Linked DNA regions of Homo sapiens. The protein of the gene in region 1 purifies or fractionates together with the protein of each later gene. This does not show direct contact. Each region holds a gene or a part of one and is shown in the gene's direction. Other genes may lie near its edges.

Region 1 (9,683 bases):
GGTGTCATCCATGGATTTCTCCCTGAATAACATGAGATTGTCATCATGTAACCACGTCATACATATGCTGGAAAATAGGAGACAAAAATTACTACTTGCGTATTAGGGAGCAACTAAAATTCCTCTGCAAAAGAATTCTATCCATCCTATTGTTCAAGTCCATGCTTACGCATCATGTTTGATTCCTATTGTCATTTTGTGCAAACGCTTATTCTTCTTTCACTCCATCAGTAAGCCTTGAGGCTCTATATCCAAAATACATTTAAATTCTAGCCATTACAACCATCCTGGCCCAAGCCATTATCATCCGCCATCCTTATTCCTGCAACAAGCTCCAAATTAGTCTCCCAGCTTTAACTCCTTTTCCCTTATAGTCCATACTACACACCACAGCCAGAAACACCCTTCTAAAACATGAGTCTGATCATTATCATCCCCTGCTTAAAATCTTCCAATGATCTCCCATTACAAATAAAATAAAACCCAAACTCTTTACCAAAGGTCTTGTCTGAACTAAGCCTATCTGCCTTTCTGGCTTCACCCCTTTCCCTTTTTATTTGTTAATCTTATCTACCAGTATCGGAAATTACACACTTTGGGTTTTTTTTTTTAACCTGTTTCTTAGATATCTACTCCAACTAGGATATAAACTCTTATTAACCAATGTATTCCAGAGGCTGTAATTATGCCTAACATTATGTATTGGGTGGATGAATAAATGAGAGGAATGAGAAAACTTAATGATATAAAGGTGAAAAAATAATAACAGATGCATGTTTGAATATTGAGAAAATTATTTTTAAAAGTATTGACTAAATAGAGCAATTCAAGAAGGTTAATGTCTTTACATAGAGGACAAGATTACATTTTTGCCCATCTTCTTCTGTTTTTTTTTCCACCCTCCCTTCCTACCTCCTCCTTTCCATAAACCATATCCCAGTACCTTATACTGTCTAACACATTAAAGGCTCTCCCCTGGCCCCTAGAAAAAAAAATGAGAGTTGAGAACCTTTACTTAGACATCCAAAAAATATAGTGAACTTCCCTCAATTCTTATCAGTGGTAGCTTACCATGTCTAGTAAACTTGCCTAATGAAAAGTCACCCTGAGAAGTTATTCTTGCTCTGATGTAGTGATCATCTGATATTGGGTTAAACCAGTTGATTTCCTTTCTTTGAAGACATGTTCAGTCAAAGAGATCAACAAACCAGTAAAAAAACTCCTAATGAGAAACAAAAGGTAAAAGAAACTAAACCATAATCATAAACCAGGTAAAGTTTAAATATTGAAAAACAAGTGGGAAAAGATGTTAAAATAGCATTTCAAGAACATTGACCTAAATATTTAGAAAGACCCCTGTATTGACTGATATTTTCCTCCTTGTGTGAATTACAACTCCCCCATCCCTTCTCCAGCCAATGGGATTACCTCCTGCTAGTTCCAGAAGGTAACTGCAGGACAATCAACCTGTGAAGGCTTCTCCTCTCTTTAAATGCCCACAGGGCTTTGTTTGTCATTATCAAATGCTGCCTTCTATTAAAATTTTGTTATGCATAGTTTATTCCCCATAGAAGCTTTTTACTTCGTAGATCTAAAGATTATTTTATCTTTGGCTCCTGCTACCTTTATAAAGGTTTCCCAGTGCCTTATAATGTGAGCCACACTAAAATATTTTCTGTGCATGAGTTTGATTTCAGAACAAAGTGGAGAATCACTCCTTTAGAAGTTATGGGAAATTTTTAAAGAGTTTTTTTTTTAACACAATTATGTCATGAGGAATGTAGTCCTTTCAATGAGTAACTTAAAAAAGGATTTGGAAAATAATCTCAATTTTGCATGCTGGAAGGAGTTCTACAGTGTAGCTTTTCAATTCTAGCACATCATTTCAAAAAAAACCTGCATTACAAAAAAACTGCCATACAAACTGCCTTACTTCATGTTAGAGTGATATGTTTTCTTTTCTTTATGAAGTGAGAGAGAAGTAGACAAGCCAGAGAAGTAAACAAAGGCCATCTAAGCTAAACAAGTGTCCTTAATCCACATCTGAATTCAGTCCTTAAGACTCAGAAAATACTGCTTTTGATAACTGTTTTCAGTGTTTACAGGTATGACGAAAGTGATCAGAGCAAAAAGGCACCATTTCAGTGACAGCTAAAGCTACTCAAGACACCATTTTTTGACTGAAGCCAAGAGCCTTGGTAAGAGGGCTATTAAGCATTCCAGTCTCAGCTGACTCCTGCTGTTGCAATGTATGTCCACTATTCTAGCATGTATTTTGGAGATGTATTTTAGGATATCATTCAAATATTTCTTCTGTTCCTTTCTGCAAAAAAGAAACCCCACTGTAGAGAGCTTTGTGATCTACTCTCCCTATGTTTGACCCAGGAAAGTTCTCCATTTAGTAGTATTTAGAGGGTGAGGAGATTTGTACGTATTTTGACTTATTGTTGATAATTGTGCCCTGCCCCCTGGAATTCAAGTCAAGTCAGTGGCCTCTGCTGATGAAATTGCTTTTGAGGCAACTTGACCTTGACTCTATGAGAGTTTATGTCTCACAGCTATAGATGTTAAATCCTGTCATGGATTTATAGGCTCAAAATGGTCTTGATGCCAAACTGTCCCCAAATGGTGTTTCTGTTCTGTTCTTCTTAGGATTTTTCCACCTCACCACTTACTCTTCACTCAGCTTCATGGGATGGAAAAAACATTATTCATTGAGGGGACTGGGAATAGCAGAGTTTGCAACCAGCTGGACACTCAGGAAATCTTACCCTATGGGTCTCAGTTTCTTCCTCTTGGACTAAAACTAGATTGCTAGTCTTTTAACACTAAAATTCTACTGCTTCTTTTTCACACTTTCTCGCTCACAGATCTCTAGCTTTGTTCTCAACCTACTCCTTTCTAAAAAAAGAAATCAAATGTCACCCAGAATTTTCACTTTCCCTGAAGTAAACGTCCTCAGTGCATATGAACCATCAAATGGCTTATAATCCTGGGTTGAGGTCTACACAGAATTTGATTCAAGTGCATACTTTATATTTTTTGCAAATATTAATGAGCTATACCATGAAAAAGACATAATTACTGTTAACCTTTATTGTTATTATTTTATCAATGTGAAAATAAACTAAGCTCTATTTGCTCTACTCTTGTTTTGATACCAAACTAGGCTTGTTCTGCCCAGCATGCAGTAAGTCAGTTACTGAGATAACAAGTGTATTAATCCGTTTTCATGTTGCTGATAAAGACCTACCTGAGACTGGGCAATTTATAAAGAAAAAGAGGTTTAATGGACTCAGTTCCACGTGACTGGGGAGGTCTCATGATGATGGTGAAAGGCAAAAGGCATGTCTTACATGGTGGCAGGCAAGAGACGGCATGCAGGGGAACTCTCCTTTATAAAATCATCAGATTTCATGAGACTCATTCACTATCACGAGAACAGCATGGGAAAGACCCAATCCCATGATTCAATTACCTACCGCTGGGTCCCTCCCACAACACATGAGGATTATGGAAGCTACAATTCAAGATGAGATTTGGGTGGGGACACAACCAAACCATATCAACAAGTTTTGCAGTAAAGAGAAGATTTTATTCACAGGACAGCCCAGCAAGGAGATGGAAGAACAGCTTTCAAATCCACCTCTCCAAAGATAGGGCTTAGAGATATTTATGGGGTAAAGAAGCAGGGTGGTCTAAGGTGTGGGGAAGGTGATTAGCAGTGGGGAAAAATGAATAGGTGGTCTGAGCATGCATAATCAAGGTTCATGACTCTTCATAGGACACATGTTCAGAAAATGGTGGCATTAGCATGCTGTGAAGGTGAGGTTTTTGGCCTTCTGGTATCAGAAAGTCACTTCTTGGGCATTTGTGCAGGCCCAGTTGAAGGGCCTGCAACTCTCTTCTTTCCTTCTTCTATCTGCTTTCTCATTCTCCTATTATCCTTACTCCATAGTAATAAGGCCCAGGAGTCAATGGGCAAGGTAGAAAGAGGGTTGGTGGTCTCTTTCAAGTAGTTTAACTTGGGTAAGAACACCTAGTTCCTGAAAACAAAAACAAAAACAAAAACTTTAAGCAACTATTACCATAGTGACATACATGCCAGAGACGTTGTCTATAAGGAAGCTAGTGACAGATTAGATGTATATTGTTTGGCTACATGACTTTTAGCTATATGGGCTTTGAGATCAACTAGAAGTAAGCAATAAAAAGCAAGCAAGGCAGGCTGTTTGGTGGGCCTCACCATGTTAGACCTGGGTTTCAGTTTTCTATTTCATAGGCTCTGAGCCTTCTTAAATATGAAAAACTCTCATTAGTGGCCCATATCTAGCACCTTCTAAAAACAGAGGTGGAATGGATTTCTTTGTGGCTGTGCCTCATAAATCCCACTCTCACCTCAGGGAATTCATCCCTCAGAGATTCCTTCATTTGCTATCTGGTGGGAAGTATCTGGAATGGAACCAACAACTTTAGACAGCTCCAGACTTTGTTAAGTGCCTACAAAGAGTGTGTCTTTCATTCCTTCTCATTTGGCGCATCCTCCTCCCAAATACTCTCAGATTATTTCCCTTCTGTCCATATTCACTCATGCATTCGTCTAGTCCTCTATCTGTCTACTCAAAGAAAAAGAGCACCCTCATACACTGTTGATGGTAATCTAAGCCGGTATTTTTTTCCTGGAAAACAACTTGAAAATATACACATCTGTAGTCTTAAAAATAGTGGGGATTTGGCTGGGCACGGTGGCTCAGGCCTGTAATCCTAGCACTTTGGGAGTCCGAGGTGGGTGGATTGCCTGAGCTCAAGAGTTCGAGACCAGTCTGGGTAACACAGTGAAACCCCATCTCTACTGAAACACAAAAAAATTAGCCAGGCATGGCAGTGTGTGCCTGTAGTCCCAGTTATTCGGGAGGCTGAGGCAGGAGAATTGCTTGAACCTGGGAGGCAAAGGTTTCAGTGAGCTGAGATCGTGCCACTGCATTCCAGTCTGGGCAACGGAGTGAGACTCCGTCTCAAAAAAATTCCAGAAAGCAGCAATAGCTACTTCACCCTTGAAGTTGGCCTAAGCATGGCATTGCATTCAGAGTAACAACTGTCCTTCAGCCAATGAGAAATTAAAAGCAAATAGAATCTAATGTAGGCTCTCAAAAACATCAAATCTGGAGTGTATTCAAAACTCCCAACAAAACCTTCTGAAATGATATTGCCCCAGTCAATCTGAATCTCTTTCGTGTGCTTTGCAGTTATTCCAAAAGCAAGACAAAGGAAGATTGAGCAGGCTCCTCTTACGCTCTAGACCATCAATATTCTCTCCGCAGCTCACTTCAGACTCTCTTCTTTCCCTCTTTGTTTTCTCATTCCCCTGTTATCCTTACTCCATTCCCCCACTAGTAATAAGGCCCAGGAGCCAACGGGGCAGGTAGAAGGAGGGTGTGGAGCTCGGAATTGGCCAGTGTTTCAATCCCTTTTATTCAAAATTGCCCTTTGGTGGGCCATTTCATTAGTGAGATTTTATCAAAAGAAACGTGTATGCGTCATACAATTGTCTATAATGCTAAAGAATTAAAATAACTTGAATATCCAAATATAAGCACACTGCCTACAATCAAATGTAATGCAAGTATTAAATGCTTTTACTTCAGACATCTTTTGACGTGGAAATGTATTTAGAGTACACTTTTCATTTTTTGAAAGAAATTATGAAAGAAAATATACAACCTGTTACCATTTTGAAAAGAAATATCATGTATTTTATATACATAGAAAATGTTAATATTGGTTGCCATTGGTGGTAAAATTGTGAGGAATTATTTTTTTCTTCACATTTACCTGTATTTTCTAATTCATTAGAATTTGTGGTTTATATCAGAGATAAAAAGACAAAATACAAGCCATGCAAATATTATTCCTCTCTGGGAATTTACTGCCTGGTGGAAGTCAGACAAGACTATAAATAAATAATTCAATGTACTTGAGACATTAAAACACATCTATATACATATATATATATAATTACAGAAGAAAAGGCAAACAAGTCTTTTGGAGGAGTAGAGGTATCAGGAAAAACTACACTGAGGATATGAGTCTTAAAGGAAAGGTAGGCATTTTCCAAAAACTGAATATAAGGCAGGGAAGGATAGTATTCAAAGGCATGGAAGAATAAAAGTGCATGGCATATTCAGAAAACATATAGTAAATTTAGTATGCCTATTACAGATGGTGCAAGAGAATAGTGCATGAGATAGTGCATGAGAATAGTGCATAATGAACTGGAGAAAGAGGTTGGGATCACATGTAAGAATCCATTATGTCATATTGAAAATTTGGAATTTTTTCCTGAAAAGATAAGGAGCTAATAAACAACTGTAAGACAAAAATAATCATTCAACATCTTATTTAGAAGATAATTAGTGATTGGGCATGATGGTTCATGCCTATAATCTCAGCTGTTTGGGGGGCCGAGGCAGAAGGATCACATGAACCCAGGGGTTTGAGACCAGCCTTGGCAACATAGCAAGATCCTGTCTCTACAAAAATTAAAAAAATTAGCCAGGCATAGCAGCACACCTGTAATCACAGCTACTTGGGAGGCCAAGGCAGGAGATCACTTGAACCCAGGAGTTCAAGGTTGCAGTGAACTATGATCTCAGCCTTGCATGCCTGCCTGGGTGACAGAACAAGACCCTGTCTAAAAAGAAAATAAAAAGAAGATGACTAGTTCTAGTGCAGAGTACAGATTGAATGCATACAGACTGGGGAAAGAGGGTTATTAGAAAACGGTTGCAGTAGCCTGGTAAAAGCTAATGAGGGCCCCATGTAAGGACAGAGCTGTGGGTAGCAGAAGATCTGCTGTGAGAGAGACTGAAGAGGAACAATCAATAGGACGTATTGCCTAGCTTCATGTATACTGGTAGGTAGAGAGGGGTGTTAAATATTCACCGAGCTACCCTGGTTGGGTGAATTAGTGAATGCAATTGCTATTCTCTAAGATATGAAATATATAAGGAGGAAGAAAGTTTATGGAATACAGAATACAGAAGAAGGAGAATGAGAGGGCTGAGGAATGGGAATAAGTCAACTTTTAGCTATGTTGAGAGGGAGATGCCTATAGACAGGTTCAGTAGTCACAGATGGAGTTCAGGACGAAGATCAAGACTAGAGTAAAAGTCATAAATTTTCTTAAGAGCACTCAGGAATGTGCATCATTCACCTTCTCATAAGAGGGAAAATCAAGACCACTGCTTGGCTTTAGAGATCAATTCCAGATGACACAGATTAGAGAACTCAGGGTAAGGATTAAATAATAAAACAATATTTGGCATAACATATGCAATTCTGGAAGATGTAATATTTACTAACAAAGTATGAAGACACTGATGTGCTTATTGCATTGTAAGTAGAGTTAACAGTCTGATTCTTCTCATTGCATTGATATACCCAAAGATCAAAATCTTGAGACGTCAAACTATAGTTTCATGACCAAATATGGATTTCAACACTATTAACAAGCTTTTTAAAAGTTAGATAGACAGAAAACTCAGAAACATTCATGATTCTTAAGGATTAGGGAAGGTGTTATACGCTTCATTAAGTCAAAAGTAGTTGACAAATGTTTAATATTGCACTATCAGATTAATTTCAAATATATTATATCAAAAGACATAAAATGTACGGAATTTTTATAATCCTGTTTCCTCTTCCTAATAGGATCACAGTTTTTCCCTTTCCTTCTTTCTTTTTATTTTTTTGTTGCTTATCAGTTCAATGTAAGATTCAAGGGTCAACATTTATAAATTTAAATGGTTTACAGTTTTCTCATGATCATTGGCTACTTGAACAATTGCTGTTAGAGGGGTCACATGGGAACTGACAGAAAAGCTCAGCAACGGAAGACTGGAGAAGCATACCTCAACATTTATAGAAAGGAAATATTCAAATAATATTTTTAAGTGGTAGGTTAGGCATCCCTATACAGCACATGACCTGTAAATAAGGAAGTATGACGAGACAGAAGAAAGTGGAGAAGCGAGATAATGATACATTGGGTAAATCCATAATTATGTAACCAAGGAATGTCCTCAAAGTCTTGTACACACAAACAGGTTAGACTGGTTATTCATAAAAATGTTTAATTTGCAAAATTATTTTGTGAGCAAACATCTCACTATCGTGAACGTTTGGTGCTTCGAAACAAATACAGAAACTTTTCATAATTGTTCATGTCCTTACTGGGAACAGTCCTGTCTCTATTAAGGCTTTACCCTCAGAACCAGAATCAAAAAATAGTTTTGTTTCTCCCAGCTGTCTAACCCTGCCCAATTTCTTCTCTCCTGTGCTGTCCTCCTTCACTATTTATGCTCAGGAACCCAGCTGTGCCTTAACCAAGAGTGTGTGGTGCGCTTAGCATGCTTTACACACCACATTTTCTTTCCACTTATATATTTCTGTCTTAGTCCTTCCTGCCAGCTTAACAACTCAAGATGGCACTGGCAGTTATTCCCAATTAAGCACTTTTTACAGAAAGTGAGAGGGGAAAGAAAATTACAGTCTGAAAGCTATATTGTTAGCCACGCCCATTACTACCCCTTCTGGCTGAACCGACGTAACACCTACTATTGTATTTTTTCTTTAAATTTATTTGAACCTCCGTTACACAGAATTGCGGTCATATTTATACGAGATCTATTTCCTTACACAGTATTATGACTGGTCTTGGAGAAAACACTTTTACTTCCTTGTTTGTTTGTTTATTAATAATAATAACAATAAGCGGCCATGAATCTACTACTCAACACAAGAAGTGACAGAGTGCCAGTGACTTCATCAACTCTGTACTCGTCCCCCACCCATTAGAAGCATTATGCCAAGTCTTATTTGTCACTCCCTTGCCTCTTTATATATAGTTTTATCCTATATTATTTACATATTTATCTCATGTATACACGTACATATGAATACTACTTATGTGTTTCAAAAACTATGTATTTGCATATGTCTATAGTTTAGTTCTGATTGTTTTCATTTTGTATCATGCAGTATAAAATTATCTGAGTCTTATTTTTTCACTTATAGTCTTGCTAATATATTCATATCATATCTCACTGTGTGAATATGCCATAATGTGTTCGTTCATTCCACTCTGATAGTCATTCGGGCTATTCCCCGCTTTTTTGTTTGTCTATTTTAGTTATGAAAGGCACTACACTGAACAACCTGGCACATGTCACCCAATATACATATAGCAAAAGTTTCTCCTGTGTATATGCCTTTAAGAGGAATTGCTGGTTTGTTCAATATGTGAATATCCAACTTGAAAAGATAATTACAAGCAATGTGTAGGAGATCCCATTAGGCCTCATCTTCTCTAGCACTTAATATTTTCATGAGCCTAAGTTAGATTTAATCTTAATGTGCCCACACTACCCGAGATCCCTTATTCTCCCATAAAAACAATTAATACATGTTCAGTTGGCAAACACGTAAGCGTTGGAAAGGTATGAATTGGCATCTGCCAACCTTAGAAGTATTGAGGCAGAATCTCCACCTTGGTCAGCCCTCCTCCTCTGAGATCCTGGAATCAATTTTCATCAAAGAAAAAGAACGTAACAAACCCATGCAACCAGACCATTGGCCCATCATTGGCTTAGAGCTGATCCTATTCCAACACAGTCACTGAGAGC
Region 2 (10,462 bases), on another chromosome or scaffold:
CTTTAGAAATCAAAATTTTTGTTCCTGGTTTTCTTCTTTTATCAGATACACAGCCACATAAATAAATGGAAACTTCGTACATTTGTAAATTGTCAGTACATACCTAGGAAGAACTTCTCTACCTTCTGAATATTAATATGTGACTATATAGGCAGAATTAAAGGTATATAAACTGGAGCCCTCAGGAAAGTATAACCTCTATAGTATAATGGAGAAAGAGGAGTTTGTAATTTGTCTTATAAGTGCTTTGCAGATTGGCACATGATGTAAATCTATGATTCTCAGTTTTGGTTCTTGGGATCCTTTACATTCGTAAAAATTGAGGATTTTATGGAGCTTTTGCTTATGTAGGTGATATGGTTTGGCTCTGTGTCCCCATCCAAATCTCATCTTGAATTGTACTCCCATAATTCCCAGGTGTTGTGGCAAGAACACGGGGGGGAGATAGCTGAATCATGAGGGTGGTTTCCCTCATACTGTTCTCATGGTAGTGAGTAAGTCTCATGGGATCTGATGGTTTTATCAGAGGCTTCTGCTTTTGTGTCTTCCTCATTCCCTCTTTGCCTGCTGCCATCCACGTAAGATGTGACTTGCTCCTCCTTGCCTTCCGCCATGATTGTGAGGCATCCCCAGCCACGTAGAACTGTGAGTTCTCTACTAAACCTCCTTCCTTTGTAAATTGCCCAGTCTCAGGTATCTCTTTATCAGCAGCATGAAAACAGACTAATACAGTAGGTTACCTATATTCAAATTTCCAGATTAAAAAATTTTAAATATACTAAATATTTACTATAATGGGGTACTGATCTAAATTATACCCTAGAGCCAGATGCTGTGGCTCGTATCTGTAATCACAGTTACTTGGGAGGCTGAAGCAGGAGGATATCTTGAGGTGAGGAGTTTGAGACCAGCTTGGCCAACACAGAGAGACTATGTTTCTCTTAAAAACATATGAATATATATTTGTGTGTGTACACACACACACACACACACACACACACACACAGCCTAGAGAAGCCAATGCCATCTTTTTGCAATGTAGGAAGAGCCAAGGTGAGAATGAAGTTAACAAAGAAGAAAGCATAGCTCAAAGTGACATCCTAATGACATAGTTTCAGACTCTGAATCTAGCCAACCCTGAAGCTACACAAGTCCAGACTTGTTAGCTGCATAAGCCAATGAATTTCTTTTGGCTTCAACTAGGATCAGTTGCTTGCAACCAAGCATGTCATCAGACATCTGGGTTTCCAATCGTGGGCTTCAGGGAAATAGAGTAACTGAAGCCAAGAAAAGCAAAACTGCAGATAAGGGAGGGCTACTGTGTACTTCATGCTACTGAATTGTACACTTTTAAATGGCTAAAATGGTAAATTTTATGAATGTGTATTTTACCATTTAAAAAATGGTGAGGATGAAGCTTTGGTTGCTTTAAATGTATTTTTTCCCCAAAGAAAGATAGATTATGGTCAAGAAGAACTTTAAATTGGCTGAATTAGGCTTTGTATTTTTTCCCCTAGAATTGCTGTAACTAATTCTGGTCTGAAAATAGGTGAGTACAATACAATAAGATATTTTGAGAGACAGAGCCCACATTAACATAACTTTTATTACAGTAAATTGTTATAATTGTACTATTTTATTATCAGTTATTTCTGTCAATCTCTTACGGTGACTACTATATAATTAAACTTTATCATAGGTATGCACATGTAGGAAAAGACATAGAGGAGAGTCTGGACCCAGAAAAGCCCAATGAGATTTGGCCTTGCTTATACTGAAATTGTGGGCCAGGCGCGGTGGCTCATGCCTGTAATCCCAGCACTTTGGGAGGTTCAGGCAGGTGGATCACAAGGTCAGGAGATCGAGACCATCTTGGCTAACATAGTGAAACCCCGTCTCTATTAAAAATACAAAAAATTAGCCAGGCATGGTGGCGGGCGCCTGTAGTCACAGCTACTCTGGAGGCTGAGGCAGGAGAATGGTGTGAACCCGGAAGGCGGAGCTTGCAGTGAGCCGAGATAGTGCCACGGCAGTCCGGCCTGGGTAACAGAGAGAGACTCCGTCTCAAAAAAAAAAAAAAAAAAAAAGAAAAAAAAGAAATTGTGATTAACCACAGAAAAACTAAGAGTTAACTGGTGGGCTAAGTGTAAATATACCAGTACTAGGAAAAAACTAACTTCAGGCCGGTCACAGTGGCTCACGCCTGTAATCCCAGCACTTTGGGAGGCCGAGGCAGGTGGATTACCTGAGGTCAGGAGTTCAAGACCAGGCTGGCCAACATGGTGAAATCCCATCTCTACTAAAAATACGAAAATTAGCAAGGCATAGTGGCACACACCTGTAATCCCAGCTACTCGGGAGGCTGAGGCAGGAGAATTACTTGAGCCCAGGAGACAGAAGTTGCAGTGAACTGAGATGGTGCCACTGCATTCCAGCCTGGCTGACACAGCAAGACTGTCTCAAAAAATAATAATAATAATAATAACTTCATTTCTACTGAAATATAAAGTTTCATTCCATGATAATTGTAATGAAAGCCACATGTTAACCTATTTTTTTTATGTTGTCTTGGATGGTTAATGGCAACTCTTGTAGTTTTCATGATGAAAACCCTAAGAATGGAAAGAATAACTCCCTGGGCACTTCTAATTATTTACATACAAATTCCCACCCCAACCCACACCACACCCCATGTCCCATGTTTCCTGAGACATTTATCAATATTTGGAAAATGGCACTCTCTCCTACCTTTCAGAAAATTTTCTTTGGCATAATATTGATTCCAGGATGAATTCTGAAGAATGTCACACTGTAACAAGAGTAATAGTGTGTACATATTATAATATTCATTCAATAACCATCAGTAAAAGTTCACTCTAGACAGTAAAGTCACTGCGTTTTTCCTTTGTAAGGTTTGTAAAAGGTTGCTGAATTTGAGAAAGATGAATACACTTAAGAAAAACGGTTGAAAGACAAGCATTATAATTTAGTTCCATTATTATTTTTTAGGAATTTTAATACTTACAGTCAGTAAAACATAATGAATGTTAATAAACCTCCATATACTTTAGAACAGGGGTCCCCAAACTCTGGGCCATGGACAGGTACCCATCTGTGGCCTATTAGGAACCAGGCCACACAGCAGGCAGTAACCATTACTGCCTGAGCTCCGCCTCCTGTCAGATCAGTGGCTGCATTAGATTGTCATAGGAGCATGAACCCTATTGTGAACTGCGGATGCGTGGGATTTAGGTTGTGGCTTCTTATCAGAATCTAATACCTTATGATCTGCAGTTTTCTAGAACAGCTTCATCCCGAAACCATCAACCCTCCCCATCTCCATCCATGGAAAAATTGTCTTCCACAAAACAGATCCCTGGTGCCAAAAATGTTGGGGACTGCTGCTTTAGAAAATTTAATTCATATCCACCCTTCCCACTTAAATTTTAATGAATTTAACCATCACCCCTTTTATGAATGCAGAAAGTTAGTCTCTTGTCCTCTTATTATTGATTTGTGAAATAAAGTGCCAGTTTTCTTCCATGAATAATTACAGAATATTCTAATTAAAGGAGTGCTTATTTAGTCTACCACTATACTTAAAAGGTACTTATTTAGTCTACCATCTTATTTAAAGGATGAAGGAAAAGGCCCAAATTTGTTTAGGGTCACAACCTGTTAGTGGGCAGGTTTAGACCTTACGTCTAAGATAGATGTAAGACAGACGATAAGCTCAAGATATTTTCTAATCATTTAGAGTGTGTTGCAGAGAATAGAGATAGGTTAGGAAGATAACAATATAACCAACTATTTGCTCTTCATGTTTAGTTTGAGATAACGGAAATCATTCTCTTGGACATACTTTCTTATCTTTATCTCTCATTTCAAACTAGTTAACAACCCGTTGGCCACCAGGATCTAAGGTGACAATGATAGGGAATGAGTTCATGACCTGGCTTAAATTTTTAATTACTGTCAAAAATACCAGCAATACACATACTAAAAACAAAAACAAAAGCAAAAAAGCCATTAATTTATTTTACCCACTTCAATTCCATCCATCATCTACTTTTAGGCCCCATTATTTAAAATGAAATACATAAGCACGTGAATCTTCAGAGGATGGGTAATTTCATGTTCCAACGGAACAATAAAAAACTCATAATCGGCCAGGCACGGTGGCTCACACCTGTAATCCCAGCACTTTGGGAGGCCAAGGCGGGCGGGTCACGAGGTCAAGATCTTGATCGAGACTATCCTGGCCAACATGGTGAAACCCCGTCTCTACTAATAATACAAAAATTAGCTGGGTGTCGTGGCACGCGCCTGTAGTTCCAGCTACTCGGGAGGCTGACGCAGGAGAATCGCTTGAACCTGGGAGGCAGAGGTTGCAAGTGAGCCGAGATCGCGCCACTGCACTGGAGCCTGGCGACAGAGCGAGACTCCGGATCAAAAAAAACCAAAACCAAAACCAAAAAAAAACCTATCAAAGTGACTTTGAAATTTGTGTATAAACACTGATATACATCTTTTAATACTTTGCTTTTCACTTTTATGCCTCCAGGTTACTACAGCTAAGAAGAGAAAACATATACATATGAGTGTGTGTACACACACACACACGCATATAACTTTTTAAAATTCAGAAGTTGAAAGGTCCAGAACGATAGTAAGAAACTAACGTAGAATAGCCACAGGTGATTAATAACACGTTTCATGAAAGGCACATGGAAATAAATGGCAACAAAAGCTACTTTCATGGTAATCTCACATCCCACGAATACTGAAATGAAAATCGCCGCGGCAATGGACTGTGGTTCAGGTGGAACACGTTCTCGTTCGCTAAGGAGATTGATGCTTTTCATCTAAAAGCAGCGCTCATGGCGAAGAGGCTTAAGGCCACAAAACCGTGGGACAGCAGGAGGAAGAGAAGCCAGGTATCTCCACTCCAGCTGCCCTGCCTCAGACTCCTCAGTTTCGCACGTGAGGATCGTCTTGCAGGCACTGACTGGAGATGGAATCCTAAAGCATAGGTGAAGCGGAAATCCTCCTTCAGGGAGAGCCCACTGAGGAAGCCAGCGGCTAGCACGAGGCAGGACAGGATACCTCCCTCTTCGCCCACGGCGGCCTCTCTGTCATAGTAGCCACCGTTCTGCCACTCATGCAGCTTTCTAAGACACCTCTCGGTTCCCCAGCGCTTTCAGTGGGGCGGCCGGCCATTCCCGAGGGTTGCAAGAGGAGGCCCGGGGTGCTGAGCCAGCCTCGCTGCCCCCGCGTAGAAAGCCGGCCCGCCGGCGAGAGCCAGCCTAAGGCGCGGACAACCAACGAGGTGTCAGGCTCGGCAGGGGATTGCTTCTGTCTGGGGCCCGGCCGAGGTTGCGTTCGTGCCTCGCGCGCACACGCTCCGCGTTCACTCAGCCAATCCGGTGCTACTCGCGCGCCCAGGAGCGATCCGCGGTCCTACTCAGGCTGGGCCGGCTCCTTCCCGCTCCCAATACTCAGCACCCGAGCTCTCACTCCTCCCCTCACTCTCCACGAGTTCCACGCCTAGGGGTGTAGCTCCGCCCTTGTCCCCGAGTCCGCCCCCGCAACCTCCAGAGCGTGTGCTATCCTTTCCTCTCAGTCCTGCCATCTAGCTGCCTTGGGTCTCGCGCTCCGCAGAGCGTTCCGACACTCTCCGGCCTCGTTCTGCCGCCTCCGCGCGCTCTCCCCGTGCGGCCACCGCGCCCCCCAAGCTTGCCTCCTTCTTGCCGGACTTGGGGCCGCGCGCCCTGACTCCTTCCCCTCCCGCGGACCCGCGCACTCCCGGCGCGGCCTCTCCCCCACGCAGGCCACCGTGCACTCTGTGGCCTCCCCCTCCTTCCCCGCTCTCCTCGCGCTTCTCTGGCTCCCTAGCTGTCGCGCTCTCCTCGGCGAGCGCGCTCCCGGCCCGCGCGCTCCGGGCTCCGGTTTCTCCCGGCTCCTGTCAGTGCGGTGACTGCGCTGGGAAACATGGCGACCGAGGGAATGATCCTTACTAACCACGACCATCAAATCCGTGTCGGAGTCCTTACAGGTAACCGGGGGAGGAGGTCTGGGACCTATGAGGCTGCTGTCCCTGCATTGCCTTAGGCTTTTCGCCTGTGGTGGCCCTTCTCTGCGGCCTCGGGAGGAGGGAAGGCTGAAGAAGGGAACCGCGGGGGTGCATTTTACAACCGCTGAGAACCGCCGGAGATTGGGGGTGTTCCCGCGGGTCCCCTCCCCCAGGCCCCAGGAGCCGGGGTCGACCCCGTGGGATGTTAGGCCCCAGCGCCTTCGGAAGCAAAGTCCTGGGCCCCCGGGGACCGAGGGGCCGGTGCGGAGGGCGCTGCGGGGCTCCGCGCTGTCGGTGCAGGCGGCGGGATCCCGGCTCCGCAGTCTGAAGCATGCCGCTCTCGGCTGGCCTGGGCGCATCCTCCGCTAGTGCTCTTCAGAGAGAGGGGGGAATCCCATCTCCACCCCCTTCCTCTCCTTCCCTTCCCCCCACCTGGGCGGCCCCACGCCAGTATCTGTGCTTGCCTGGACGAGACTCAGGTGTTAATCAGATGAAACTGCTCCTCCTCGGGTTGTCCCTCGCGGGCCGGGCGTCCCCTCAGCCACCCATGGGGCACCCTTCGCCTCCCTCGGGGGATGGGGGATCGGCTTGCGTCCGGACCTCGGAAAGTGTCTGCCTTCTGCCTTTCCGCGCAAAAGGCCCTCTGTCTGCCTCGTCGTTTCCTTAGCGAGGACGGGCTGCAGCCTGCTGCCGGGGATCCAGCTTTTTACTTGAGAGGGCAGGATTCCCCTACTCGGGCTCCTCTCCCCCTCCTTTCTGGGAACCCCCACCCCGGTAGAGCGTCCCGAGGCTGGTGAGGAGCGCACTTTTCCCGGGTCGCGTTTCCCTCCCTCGCGAAAGCCGTGTGTGTTCTGCATGTCTGATTCCGTTGCGCTGAATTTGGTTAATATCCGTCACTTCGGCGATCGGCAGTTGCTGCAGGGCATGACTTCCAAGATGAACAGCAAGCGGATTTGTAGGGGTTTCTGCTGTGGTTCTGTAATTGGCAAGGTTTATGTGTAATTGAGTGGCGAGACGGGGGTTAAAGAACTATATTTGGAATCTGAGGGCTTAGTTTGGAGTGAAGGAAATCCAAGACTCAGTGATGTGATTTCGGAAAAAGAAGCAGTGTGGACGGGAATCCTAGTGTTTCCCTTACTTCTTTTTTTAATTTTTTCTTTAACTGTCAAATTCTGACAGGTCGAGACGGTGCTCGAGAAGGGACTAAATTGAATAAGACTTGCTTTTATTATTAGGTAGAAAAAAAATGTCTGAGACTGCCGGCAGATATTGAGTGCAAAGCTTAATTTAGCTGCTGAATTTTATGAAAAGGTGATATCCAAAGCCTCCTTTTTTCTCTTTTAAGTAAAGGATTGCCTTTCCCTGGTATTCTTTCCGTATATCGATGGTGATTAATTGAATTTTCCTAATTAAAAGACCCTTGGATAGAGAAACTAGTCTAAACCAGTTGCAGAAAAGGGAACCCCCAAATCAGAAGGTGCGCTGTTCTCTTCTTTTGGTCCTGAAACTGTTTGGGTATGTGAAGATTCAGTTGTATTTCAGAATTCCTGGAGCTGACATTGCCAATTTTCGAATAATCTGATGGTGGGATGTCAAAGTGTATATCTTTTATCTACCCTCAACTTGCACTTTAAATTCCAGCCATTCTTTGACAATAATAGAGTAGTGAGAAACCAAAATATGTCAGTTGTCTGTGGAAATAAAAAAGGCCATAGATGTTTAAAAGTTAAACCGTAGAAACATTTTTAAAATGAACATTTTCTACTTAAGCTTTCCATTAAATAATAGTTTCATTTAACGAATCAACTTACCTTTGTGAAGTGACATAGCAGATAGGTGTTGTACAGACTGCTTTGAAAGATGCAGCCCTTATCTGGTGTCCCTACAGTCTAATATGGATAACATTGATACGCAAACAAATGAAGAAACATTGTATGTAATTATTGTGCAAAACTTTTCTAAATACATTACCTATGAGTTTGGGGTTAACTGCAAAAGAAATTCCGTATTCAGATGGATTAGGAGAGAATGTGACTACCTGAAGGGAGAATTTAATACATTTACTAGGTCAAGAAGAAACTGTCAATTTTAAGGGGAGTTGAAAGTCAGCAGCCACTTTATAAATAAATATATAGTTGATGATGAGGCTTCTGAGCTAAATAAAAATGCAATGTAAAGGCCTTGAAAAGCTGAAGTGGAATGGGTAGGTGGCATAGGTAAAATGTTAGAGAGAAGGTAACATTAACATTGACAGTGGAATTAAAGACAGTCAGGGGAAGCCGTCTCATGAGAATGAGGTACAGTAGTCTAGGGGGAAAAGTCTAGGGCCAGGAACAAGGATGTAGCTGAAGGAATGAAAAGGCAGCTACAGATTTGGAATAAGTGATAATAGAGGAAAATAGGTTTTGATGATAACATGTATATTTGAAGTCAGAAGTAACTCAGGCTTTTTCTTGAAAGTTGTTGATACAGATATTGTCTACTATGATGGAGAGGAAAGAAAACTGATTTTTCTCAAGTCTGTAACTAGTGGGTTTCATTATCAACAGCTTAATTTCTGTGGTCTTGCCTGATATACCATATGATTTGGGGGAAAGAACTTACAAAAATGAAGCTGTGCTGTACAATTTTGTGTATTCTAGAACTTGAGGTTTTGCAGTTTTACTATGTAGAATTATTCTTTACTGAACTGAAGTATTGTGATTTCATACTTAAGAAAGTTGAGTTGAACTGTGGTTTTTGTAAATTATTATTTGTGGCTCTTAAAAGGTGGAGGGTCTCTTTTAGAAAATCTCCTTGGCATGCTTCGTAATACTAATTTTAAGTATTTTATCTATATCTATTTTACAAAGATAGTGGAAAGTGTGATCTACCCACACACACATTTTACAATATGTTACTTAGTATTTTGTGAAGTCATATTGTCATTTCTAAAGTTTTTAATTGACGTTGTGACATTTTTTATTACCTGTTGAAAGATATTTGTTCTTTGAAACTTTTCATCCATTAGATGTTTTCGTTATCTTCATTTCAGTTGTAAATTTGGCAAATTTAGTACATAGTCTGTTGAGACTTCTCATTAAATAAATTAATTGTATTAGGTTTATGAAAGAATAATGGTAGAAAGGGAAATATTTAGCAGAAGCATTTTTTTGCTTCATTATTTTGAATTATTAAGCACTTGAAAATGAGATTATGATAATTAATGTAACATGGATATTCTAATTATACTTTTTTTTAAATCAGGAAAATGAGAACATATATGTATATAAAATAGGCTGTATGTGGAAACATTTTATGTTGAATATTATTGTCCATCTCTAACAACAATAACTTTGTTCGAAACTGTCTTATGTTGACTTGACAGAAATGAAAGTCACATGGTGTTTGGTGACCTAAGGTCTAGTTTGAAATATTTCTGTGTCTAATTAGTTGTCTACTTGTATTACTATTTATAGAAGAGACTAGAGGTAATATGGTAATGAGTAACATGAAGCAAATAAACAAGTATCTGCTACTTGAAAACTAGAAACAGGATGTGGTGCAGATGTAGAATTTTTTTCTAACAGCTTTAGTAGTGATTATACTTGAAGTCAATCTTACCAGTTACATAGCAGGCTCACTATATCTGGAATATGTCACTCTTCACATACTTTTTTCTATTTTGAAAGAAGCTGTTTATCAAAGCAGCATACTAGTTTTACCTGTAAAAGCTCTACAGAAACATTACTAGGAAAATAATGACTACATGTATGTATAGAATGTAGAATCATATAGATTATTCCATTGGCTACTGAATATCGTATTAGTTCGCTACAGCTAATGTTTGATACCAAGGTACTTAGCTGAAGATGATAATCCATTACCTAAATTGTCACTAATAGGGGCATGAATGAGAAAAAGGTACAAATTTTTGGGAAAGGGCATTTTTAAAAATCATATTTTTGCTGTAGTAATATACATTTTAATTGCACTAACCTGTTGATTTGAAATCAGTAAGAGATACTGGAACAAATATAAGACTAGGTACTAGAGATTAGTTAAAAGACTAATTGTAAATGAGAACATCAAAATATTACAGTAACAGGTAGGGAGTATTTCAGTTATTCATAAATGAAGTCATTCAAAGTATTAAAAAAACAAGCTTGAGCCAAGCAGATGCTACTGTCATAACTCTGCAATTGTTTAAGCATTTACTTTTTTACATTCTTGAAACCTGTTCTGGTATATTATGTGTCAATATTATTTTCTGAAAAGCCCATTTATTGATAAGGATATATACATATTATATCTGTTTTGAGAATAGATGTCATTAAGTAGGCAAATTACTATTAAATCCTACTAAGTGGAACTGTATGTTCTGCCTAACTTAGCTGTTTTTTTAATATG

What was found.
Region 2: the proteins of KMO (region 1) and GPHN purify together in Homo sapiens (affinity purification with mass spectrometry; 2 studies listed by BioGRID and IntAct, with this or other methods). This does not show direct contact.

Annotation. Positions count from the first base shown.
Region 1 is NC_000001.11:241,534,367-241,544,049, forward strand, and holds part of KMO (kynurenine 3-monooxygenase), read left to right. Parts: intron 1-9,683. UniProt on the Homo sapiens protein: Catalyzes the hydroxylation of L-kynurenine (L-Kyn) to form 3-hydroxy-L-kynurenine (L-3OHKyn).
Region 2 is NC_000014.9:66,502,537-66,512,998, forward strand, and holds the start of GPHN (gephyrin), read left to right. Parts: upstream 1-5,610; 5' UTR 5,611-5,991; coding exon 5,992-6,055; intron 6,056-10,462. UniProt on the Homo sapiens protein: Microtubule-associated protein involved in membrane protein-cytoskeleton interactions. It is thought to anchor the inhibitory glycine receptor (GLYR) to subsynaptic microtubules.